3 linked regions of the Homo sapiens genome follow. The protein of the gene in region 2 purifies or fractionates together with the protein of the main gene of each other region. This does not show direct contact. Each region holds a gene or a part of one and is shown on either strand. Other genes may lie near its edges.

The links.
Region 1: the proteins of MYDGF (region 2) and CMBL fractionate together in Homo sapiens (co-fractionation; one large-scale study listed by BioGRID). This does not show direct contact.
Region 3: the proteins of MYDGF (region 2) and PDIA5 purify together in Homo sapiens (affinity purification with mass spectrometry; one large-scale study listed by BioGRID and IntAct). This does not show direct contact.

The regions. Positions count from the first base shown.
Region 1 is NC_000005.10:10,297,893-10,301,545, forward strand, and holds part of CMBL (carboxymethylenebutenolidase homolog), read right to left. Parts: intron 1-3,653. UniProt on the Homo sapiens protein: Cysteine hydrolase. Can convert the prodrug olmesartan medoxomil into its pharmacologically active metabolite olmerstatan, an angiotensin receptor blocker, in liver and intestine. May also activate beta-lactam antibiotics faropenem medoxomil and lenampicillin.
Region 2 is NC_000019.10:4,657,020-4,660,470, forward strand, and holds the end of MYDGF (myeloid-derived growth factor precursor), read right to left. Parts: intron 2,985-3,451; coding exon 2,912-2,984; intron 1,066-2,911; coding exon 986-1,065; 3' UTR 526-985; downstream 1-525. UniProt on the Homo sapiens protein: Bone marrow-derived monocyte and paracrine-acting protein that promotes cardiac myocyte survival and adaptive angiogenesis for cardiac protection and/or repair after myocardial infarction (MI).
Region 3 is NC_000003.12:123,073,405-123,077,057, forward strand, and holds part of PDIA5 (protein disulfide-isomerase A5 precursor), read left to right. Parts: intron 1-3,653.

The sequences.
Region 1 (3,653 bases), on a different chromosome or scaffold from region 2:
CCTGTTGGCATCTGTTTGCTCACAGAACTGAGAAGCAGAGTCAGCAGCTCAGGGTGAGAGGCGGGACGAGGGCTGGGGAGAGGATAAGCAGGAAAACAGGGGACCAGCGAGAAGTACGTATGGCTGTTTCCTCCAGCCAGGTCCAGCAGTGGGAACAGGCGAAGAGCAGGCGCAGAGCAGGCAGAGAGAGGGGGTCAGATACAATGGGCTCTGTAGTCATGAGAGGGGGCAGGAGGGACCTGTGGGGGGAGGAGGGACTGGCCATCAATGGGGCACGGCTGCAGCACTGAGCTACCCAGGTAAGAAAACAAATCACCATGGATCCCCACATACCCCAGTGCGTGGCTAGAAATCTAAGTAGGAAAGGCGAAATTTCAACAATCAGAAGGAAATACTGAATACTTTTTTCTTGTACTTTGGAATAAGGCAGAATTTCTTAAATTTGACCCAAAAAACATAAACCATAAAGAAAAGGATTATAAATCCCATTTCATGGTAACCAATTTAAAAAAAAAGGAAAGACAACTGCAGAAAACTGAATACTAAGTGGATATTTGATGAAATTGCAAATTATTGTGAATTTTGGCAGGGGAAGATGATGGCATTGCAGCCATGTGTTTTTGAGTCCTTGTCTTTCATAGATGCATCATGATATCATGATGTACCCACAGATGACATGACCAGAGGTCTGGGATTTACTTCAGAATAGCCCCATTTGGGCTGAGTGCGGTGGCTCACACCTGTAATCCCAGCACTCTGGGAGGCCAAGGCTGGTGGATCACCTGAGGTCAGGAGTTCGAGAGCAGCCTGGCCAACATGGCAAAACCCCGTTTCTACTAAAAATACAAAAATTAGCCAGGCATGGTGGTGAGCGCCTGTAATCCCAGCTACTCCGGAGGCTGAGGCATGAGAATCACTGGAATCCAGGAGGCAAAGGCTGCAGTCAGACGAGATCGCGCCACTGCACTCCAGCCTGGGCGACAGAGCAAGACTCCATCTCAAAAAACAAACAAACAAAAACCCAAAATAGCTCCATGTGGGGTAGGGTGGACAAGGTGTCCACGTGCTGATGGTGGTGCAGCTGGAGTGTCCTGTGTACTAATCTCTCTACTTTTATATATGCTTGAGATTTTCCATGACAAAAAGCTCTTAAAATTGCATTAATAAGATAGTAACTAAGATGAAAGATTAATAAGATAATGATTAACATTAATATCAAGATAAAAGTCTCCATAAACAAAGTGAGAAAACAAGATAGACTAGGAGAAGGTATTATTTTAGGAACAGAGGACTTAGTGTCTAGATAAAATATATAAAGAATTCTTATAAGTCACCAAGAAAAAGACAACCCAATAGAAAAATTCATATGAATGGGCAATTTACAAAAAAGTACACCTGAATGGCCCATAAACATATGAACAGATATTCAACCTCACTGTTCTTAAGGAAACTATAATAAAAACAAGAATGAAATACTATTTTCCATCTTGCAGATTGGCAAAAGTCTGTTAACACAGAGATGATGGTACACTTGTAGGGAAATGGGAGGGCATGTGAAATGATACAAACCCTGGAAGGAGTCTAGCAAAGTTAAAGAAGCAGATGCCCCGCACCCTAGATATCCCACCACTAGATGTTTCCCTAGAGAAATTCATGTCACATGTGGTGGGACATGGTGGCTCATGCCTGTAATCCCAGCACTTTGGGAGGCCAAGGCCGGGGGGATCATTTGAGCCCAGGAGTTCGAGACCATCCTGGGCAACATGGTAAAACCCCATCTCTCCAAAAAAAAAAAAAAGCAGAAAAATTAGCCAGGCATGGTGGTGTGTGCACCTGTGGTCCCAGCTACTCAGGAGGCTGAGGTGGAAGGATTGCTTGAGCCCAGGAGGTCAAGACTGCACCACTGCACTCCAGGCTTGGTGTTAAGAGTGAGACCCTATCTAAAAAAAAGAGAGAGAGAGAGAGAAATTTGCACATGCCCACACAGGCACATGCAGTGATTATGGAAAAATGTTCTTGGCACCACTAATATGATGACAACACCTGGAACCAATCTAATTGACCATCAACAGGAGAATGAATAAACTGTAATTTATTGATTGATGTAGGTTGAATTGTATTCCCCCAAAATACATGTTTAAGTCCTATCCCCCACTCCCCGTGCATGTGACCTTAACTAGACACAGGGTCCTTGCAGATGTCCTGTAGTTAAGATGAGGTCATACTGGAGTACAGTAGACCATAAATCCAATGACTGGTGTCCTTCTAAGGAGGGGAAAACGTGGACAAAGACACAACAGACGCACAGAAGAGAAGGCCGTGTGAAGATGGAGGTGGAGATGGGAAGGATGCACCTGCAAGCCAAGGATTGCTGGCCCCCCACCAGACGCTGGAATAGGCAAGGAAGGGCTCTCCTTTACAGGTTTCAGAAAGAGCAGAGCCCTGCTGACACTTTCAATTTGGACTCCTGGCCTCCAGAACTATGAGGCACTGTGTTGCTTTAAGTCACCCAGTATCTGGTAATGTTATGGCAGCCCTAGAAAACAAATACATTCATAAAAAGAATATTACACAACAGTTCGATGAACAGGCTGCACCTGTAATTTATCAATATAATAAATCTCCAGACCCGCATGGTGGCTCAGGCCTGTAATCCCAGCACTTTGAGAGGTCGAGGCATGGTCATAGCTTGAGGCCAGGAGTATGAGACCAGCATGAGCAACATAGGGAGACCCCGTCTCTACAAAAAAATTTTTTTAATTAGCCGGGCATGGTGGCATGCACCTGTAGTCCCAGCTACTCAGAAGACTGAAAGGAGGATCACTTGAACCCAAGAATTCAAGGCTGCAGTAAGCTATGATCATGCCACTACACTCCAGTCTGGGCAACAAAGAGAGACATTTTTATTTTTATTTTTATTTATTTATTTTTTATATATTTATTTATATATATTTATATTTTTTATATATTTATTTTTATTTAAAAATAGAAATACAAAACTTGAAAAATCTCAAAGACATAATGCTATGTAAAAAGACATAGCATTTTGATTCTAAATAACAACCAAAAAACATACATTTTGATGCTAAATAAATAACAACCAAAAATATACATTTTATTCATAAATATACTGTAGGAAAAGTATCACGCATGAGAATGAATTATCACCATTAGGACAATTGGTTACCGGGAAGAGAGGGGAGAAAAAATGGAGATCGTGGGCTTTATTATGTTTTATTTCCCTAAAAAGTTTTGATTTGAAGTATATAGGGCAAAAGGGTATTATCTTTCAAATATGGGTGATGTGAAAGGGTGGCTGTTATATAATTCCCTTCACATTACTGAATATTCTTAGTGTTTCATAATTAGAAATAAAGTAATTAGATTTTGAGAAGAAAGAAATTAATAACTAGTTATCCAATCAAGGACAACTGGACTGTAGTTTTCTTGGTTTGGTTTTCATAAGCTACATTATAGAACTATAATTAGTAAGACTCAATAATTCAACATTGTCATTTGACACCATTTCAGAAAAACTCTCAAGCCATGTTTCCCTCTGCTCTCACAATACAGCGATCATCAACACCATGACCAAAGGTAAGGGGTGGGGGCGCGTGGGGCAGTGAGGGCTCAGTTCCAAGACTGCCCCACCC
Region 2 (3,451 bases):
CGAAACCAGCCTGAGCAACATGGCAAAACGCTGTCTCTATCAAAAGAAGATGCAAAAATTAGCCGGGCATGGTGGCGTGTGCCTGTAGTCCCAGCTACTTGGAAGGCTGAGGTGGCAAGATCGCTTGAGCCCAGGAGGTGGAGGTTGCAGTGAGCCGTGTTACACCACTACACTTCAGCCTGGGTGACAGGAGAAGACCCTGTCTCAAAAGAAAAACAAACTAAGGGAAACCAATGCCCCAGGCTGCAGAGAGCAGGTCGGCCTTGGAACATCCTCCCGCGCTGGGGCCTGTGGCAGCCACAGAAACCCGGGTGTGAATTCACAACATGTGGGGGACCCAGGGACAGCGAGTGCCAAGGGGGGAAGGGGGCAAGTTCACATACAGCCACCTTGGGATCTAGCGCTTTGATGCCTGCAGAGAAGTCCCACCCAGAGACACCGCCCACCCGCCCACGGTGGGGCAGTGTCAGCCGCGTCTGAGCTCCTGACCCGCAACGGCCAGCCGGGAGGGCCCAGGCTGTGGGGTTGCTTTTTAATGTTCTTATTTATTTAAATATGAAAAAACATTTCATCTCTTCCCAGTTCATCTGAAAGGAGGTCCCCTGGGTAAACATAGGAAAGCAGTTCTGCAGGCTCATGAAGGATGCTCGGCTGGAGGTCGGGGGGAGCATGGCTGCTTTCCCCAGCATAGCCCCCATGTTCCCCACCCTCTTTGTGCCCCGGATCTGCGATCCTGAGTCCAGAAGAGCTCAGCAGGAAGTGGGAACTGAGAAGCTGTTGGGAGCCAGGAGGGCCCTGGACCCTCTGTTCTCTGCCCCAGGGCTTCAGCCACCCTGCAAGCCCCTCCGGACAAGGCAACGTCAGCCCAGGTAGAAAACTTAAGAGTCCCTCCTAGAAAACCAGTGATGTGCTGGCCCTTTCAGGGACACAGGCCCCTTCAGCTTCACCGGAGATGAGAAGGTGCCACCCGCAACAGGGCTGCTGGTCACAGCTCAGTGCGCGATGCCTTGGCCACAATCACCAGCTTGGACAGCTCAGCTTTGAATGCCCCGGGCCTGTGAGCCACTGCAAGAAAGAAACACATGGTTGGGCCCTCAACATTGAAAATTCTCAGAAGTCCGGAGGATTTGGGGTGGGGCCCATGGTGGGGGCTAAGCAGGCAAGGGGAGCAGTCTCCAAAGCAGACTCCCATGTGAAAAGGCCCCAGGCACTGAAAGTCTTACGGGTGACAGACAGGAAAACAGTGATGTGGAGGGTAAGGTCGGTGGGGCTAACATAGATGGCAGGCAGCAGGAAGCCACAGAAAGACCTGAGGTGGGAAGAACCCTGGTCATTTGTGCCATGTTGTCAAGAAGAGATGCAGAAAGGGGCCAGAAGAAGCCCAGGAAGGAGATGATCCCGGCCTGAACAGGATGCAGGGTGGGTCAGGCTGCAAGACCTCCTGCTCAGTGGGTGAACCTGTCTGAGGCCCTCATGACACTTCTCCAGCAGGGTCAGAACTCTGGCTTCCACTGCTTCACCCAAGTCTCCCGGCCCTACCTGCTGTGTCCACTCCCTTGGCTCCCACCCTTGCCCCAGCTCGGCGCCTCCGATTCCTCTTTCTGCTTAGCATTGGCGCCATGCAGCTGAATGTGGCTTGAGGACACCGGTGCTGCTCAGGCAACCGAAGAAGGACCCTGATGTTTCCCAGTGACCCCTGCAGCCTCCCCTCGGCATGCCACAGTCCCAACCTCAAAGCCCTGATGGTTTCTACTTTGTTTTATTTCATTTATTTATTTTTTAAAATTTATTATTTTTTTTGAGATGAGAGTCTTCCTCTGTTGCCTAGGCTGGAGTGCAGTGGTGCAGTCTCGACTCACTGCAACCTCCTGCTCCTAAGTTCAAGAGATTCTCCTGTCTCTGCCTCCTGAGTAGCTGGGATTACAAGCATGTGCCACCATCCTTGGCTAATTTTGGTATTTTTAGTAGAGAAGGGGTTTCACCATGTTGGCTAGGCTGGTCTGGAACTCCTGGCCTCCCAAAGTGCTGGGATTACAGGTGTGAGCCACCATGCCCAGCCCTGTTTATTGTTTTTGAGACAGAGTCTTACTCTGATGCCCAGGCTGGAGTGCAGTGGTGCGATCATAGCTCAATGCAGCCTCGACCTCCTGGGCTCAAATAATCCTCCCACCTCAGCCTCCTAAGTAGCTGAGACTACAGGTACACACCACCATGCCCGGCTAATTTTTTTTCTTTTTGAGACAGAATCTTGCTGTCTTCCAGGCTAGAGTGCAGTGGCATGATCTCAGCTCACTGCAACCTCCACCTCCCAGGTTCCAGCAATTCTCCTGAATAGCTGGGATTACAGGTGCGCACCACCACGCCTGGCTAATTTTTTGCATTTTTAGTAGAGATGGGGTTTCATTATGTTGGCCAGCTGGTCTGGAACTCCTGACCTCAAGTGTTCCGCCCGCCTCGTCCTCCCAAAGTGCTGGGATTACAGGCGTGAGCCACCGCACCCAGCCTGATTTTTAAAAAAATTTTGTAGAGACAGGGTCTCGCTATGTTGCCCAGGCTGGTCTTGACCTCCTGGGCTCCAATGATCCTCCCACCTTAGCCTCCTGAGCAGCTGCGGTAACAGGCATGAGCCACCGCGCCCAGCTAAGATAAAGTTCTAGTGGCACACAGCCACACCCACGCATGGACATACTGTCTGCAGCAGCTTTGTGCCACAATGGCACAGCTCTAGACAGAACCCACAGTGCCACAAAGCTGAAGATATTGACGAGGTGGCCTTTATAGAATCAGTTTGTGGATGCCTGGTCTACAGTCTCCAGGACCCCTATGGCTGACCCCCCTCTCCAAACTGCCCCGATTGCCCACCCTTGGATGGGGGTGGCGTCACCTCTACCCCATCCCCATCTTTCCGTACCTGCTGTTTTGGTCACTTCAAATTCCTCAGTTTTCAGAGGGACATCACTTTCCCTTTCAAATGCGGCTTTAGACTGAAAAAGAATGAGTGGAAACTTTACCAGGGCCAGTTCAATGCTCATCATTAGGAAAACGATTGAGTTTGCTTTCCAGAGAAGCACAGACTAAAGCTTTCTACTTTTACTAGAGATGGAGAGGAGACTTTTTTGTTTTTGAGCCAGGACCTCACTCTACTGTCCAGGCTGGAATGCAGCAGTGCAATCATAGCTCACTGCAGCTTCAAAGTCCTGGACTCAAGTGATCCTCCTGCTGCGGCCTCCTGAGTAGGTGGGACTATGGGTGCATGCCAACACGCCTGGCTATTTTTTTTTTACTTTTGGTAGATATAGGGTCTTGCTATGTTGCCTAGGCTGGAATCAAATTCCTGGCCTCCAGCAATCCTCCTGCCTCAGCCTCCCAAATTGCTGGGATTACTGGCGTGAACCGCCGCGCCTGGCCTGGAGAAGTCTTTTCTGGCATATACAAGAGAAGCCAGCAGCAA
Region 3 (3,653 bases), on a different chromosome or scaffold from region 2:
GAGTGTCCCTGAAACTTGCTTTTCAGCTGCTCCCTGGTGGCTTTGGCATTGGACAGGGGTGGCCAGCCAGGTACATGCTGACTGTATCCTTCCCCCAAGGAGCTCCAGTTCACTGTCCCCTATTGCCACCCTACATCAGCAGGGCCTCTTTCCACATACCAGTTTGCAACCACTTCTAAATAATTAGCTTTGTGATCTTACATTGGGGGGTTGAAGACACTCATGGAGTGTGGGGTTAAAAGAGCCTTTATTCCTCAAAGTCATACTGAGGCCCCAGTCTGATGCACATTCCATTCCTAGATGGTGTGATGGTGGGCCTGTGTCTGGCTTCAGAGTTTCCAGCTCACTAGAGTTGCGGGGGCGCAAGGGTGGAGTGTCCATTCCCTGCAAAGAATCCTACAGTTCCTCCAACCCCTTGGCGCAGGCAGATTTCTGGAAGTCGTGAGCAGGTCCTTTAATCCTTGTTGGAAGATGTTGATGAAAATCAAGGTTGAGGGTTGTAAACTGGGGCTTAAACATAAAGGTGATCCAGTATCTGAGCCCAGATGTGGGCCTGGTAGGAAAGCTCTGTTGTTTGGGCCAAGTAGGGAAGGGTCTTGAGGAACGAGTGGGTTTGTTCTCATCACAGGGTCTAGTCTTACTGGGTCCTGGGCAGAGTATTAGTACATGCCCCTATTTCAAAGGAAGGTGGACCAACATCAGCATCCTACATGTGCCACAGATGTTCATTCATTCAACAGATACTTCTTTTTTTTCCCAAATGGATATTTCCTTGAGAATCTTTTATGAGCCAGGCCTCATGCTAAGGCATTGGGGATAACCATAAATAAGACAGACACCATCTCTTTCTCTCATGGCCTAGTGGGACAGCCACTGATTAATTATTTAATTCAGGTAGTAAGTGCTGGAAAGAGAAAGTGTTAATATAATGTGGTAAGAGAATGTATAACAGGGATCCCTAACCTAATTCAAGGAGTCAGGAAAGCCTTCTCTGAGAACCTCTGGGTCTTTCTTAGAATAATGTTTTTAAATGTATAAAGTAAAATGCATAGAATTACAAAGAAAGCAGTTTTATTGAAATACAGTTATCAAAATATAACAACAAGGTTGTGATAAAATAATATTTATGTTTATTAATGCATCATATAAAAAGATCAAAGGTACAAGCTTGATAACTTCTATAATTTTAAGTTGTGATGAGCATAAATAGTGTTTCAGGATATCTTGTAATGTGATAAGAAAATATGATTTCTGTTGGTGGCAAAGTCACAGACACTGCTACCCTAATTACTACTGTAATTTGTTATCTACATTCATAAATGTAGAAAGCATTTATACATTTATAAATACATTCATAATACAGGAAAGGCTAAATTTCAGTTAGAGGTTAGTGAAGATAAAGATGTCATTTTTCTCCATCCAAATTCGTAGACTACAGTGGAAAAAAATTATATAACACTTGGAAATAAAAGATGATTTTGTGACATTTTAGTATCATACTGGAGTATTGTATAAGAAACCACCTAAGGACCAGCTGTGTTCTAGGGGATGTAACTCTGTTTATTATTTTTTATGGGCCATACTTTGTAAAGTTAAGTAGGATGCAAATTATTTCTGTTTGGTAAAGAAGAGAAGCACAAAGATTATTGCCCTGAAGGACATTAACCTGTTGGTATCTAATGTAGCAATCTTATATCAGGATTATATCCTCTTTTTTAGGGTCTCTTATTAGCGAGTTAAGTAAAACTTTGAAATATGCTCAATACCTATTTGTATGAGAATTAGGCTTTTAACATTTTAGAACTGTACTTGACTCCAGTTCAACTGCTGAGTGAGCAGGACGTAAAGATGTGTTGCTTAGAAGAGAGGTCTGATCTGGAGATGTTAATTTAGGGGTGCTGTTCAGGAGAGTGGGTGAAGTTGGCTGGGGGACCATATAGGGTAGGAAGAGAGGGTAGACTGAGTGAGCTGTGGAACTTCAACATTGAAAGAATGGGGAGAGGAGGGTTTACAAAGAAGAAAGGAATGATTGCTAGAGAGGTAGGAGGGAAACCAAGTGTCGCATCCAGTTCAAGAGGCCAAACAAGATGAGAACTGGAAGTGCCTGTAGGGTTTATCTATAGGAGGTCATTGTTGAGCCTTCACCAAGAGCCTTTTTTGTGGTGGTTGTGGGGAGGGCAGATTTCAGAGGGATGAGCAATGGAAGGAGGGAGGAGAATGGGAGGAGCAGGGGAGATGGAAAATTCTGGCTGTGAGTGGAGAGGGGAGTGATATGGGGTCCAGAGAGAGAGTTTTTAAAAGATGGGTCAGTGATGGAGTTTCTTCACCTTAAGGAGATATGTGTAAAATGGATTCCTGGGCTCCCAGCCCCTGGAGATGTTTTTCTTCAAGAATAAAGCCCAGGAATCTGTATTCCCAGAATACCGAGCTCTGCGGTAAAGCTACAAAACTAGACACATTTCCAAGTTAATCTTATATGGCTGGTGGTATTTTGCCAGCCGAGGTGGGTGCTCTCAATTGAGTGTGTAGCACAAGTTCTGCTCACATTGGAGCTGTGTCACCATTGTCTGCTTGGTGTCACTTGGCCTGAGCATGTGCTTTTCTCTGAAGGGATTTGGGGGTTTGTGGACATGCTGGTAGCAGAGGGAAGATGGATCAGGTTGTCATTGTAGCTCTTTTCAGCAGGTCACGCTCAATAGCTGGATTGGAAGGGACAGCAGACTTGCCAGCCTCTCGGGTATTATTCTGGGTGGAGCAACGGGGAGTGGATGATGCTCCAGGGATGTCTGTGGGAACTATTCACATTGACAGCCCAAGAGAAAAGCATCAGATCTGTCCTGGCGGGGACCTGGCTCTACTGTTTTAGGCTTAATCCGAGGCAAATCCCTTCTCTGAGCCTCAGTTTTCACATCTCTAAAGTGGGGATAGTACCACCTCTGCCTATAAACACTCATTGTTTATGACAATTTTTCAACTCCTGCAAGAACAGTTATACATTTTACAGTGTAACCCAGTACACACTGGGCTCACTGAATGCATAGTGTTGCTACCTGTGCTACTCACTGATGTTTTCTAGTCAATGTAATTTTTTAAAAATGCTACTGTAACTCACTGATTTTATGACTAGACTCCTGGGTTGAGACCTGAAGGGTGGAAACAGTGGCTTAGACTCTCAGCTTCAGAGGATGAAATGAGATCATGTGTGTAAAAGCATGGATGTACACCGTGGGTCATGAACACTGAGTTGTTATTTTCTTATCAGTTAACGGAGCTTGGAGGCAGAGTTGATTTCCGGAGTGGGAATTCACCTGCTCTTCCTCCCTCCCTGCTGCCTAATTCAATGTTCCCTCTACCAGTTCTTCCTCGTTAACAGGCCTGGCACACCAAGCTGGCGGTGATCCAGACCCCTCTTGGCTCAAGAAGAGGTTTTCCAAAACATTAAAAGCTTTAGGGACTTAAGTCCTGGCTAAATGCACTGCAGTTGCAATTTCAGGATAAGAAAACCTGTTTTCATAAGCTCTCAGATAAGTTGCCCTGCCCCTGAATTGTCCATTGTTGACAGCAACATTTGTGCCATGGGGAATAAAAAGGGGAGACACTGTGCTGCGTAGCCCCAAATGTAAGGTGTGGCTTTTTAAAGGAAGCAAAATATA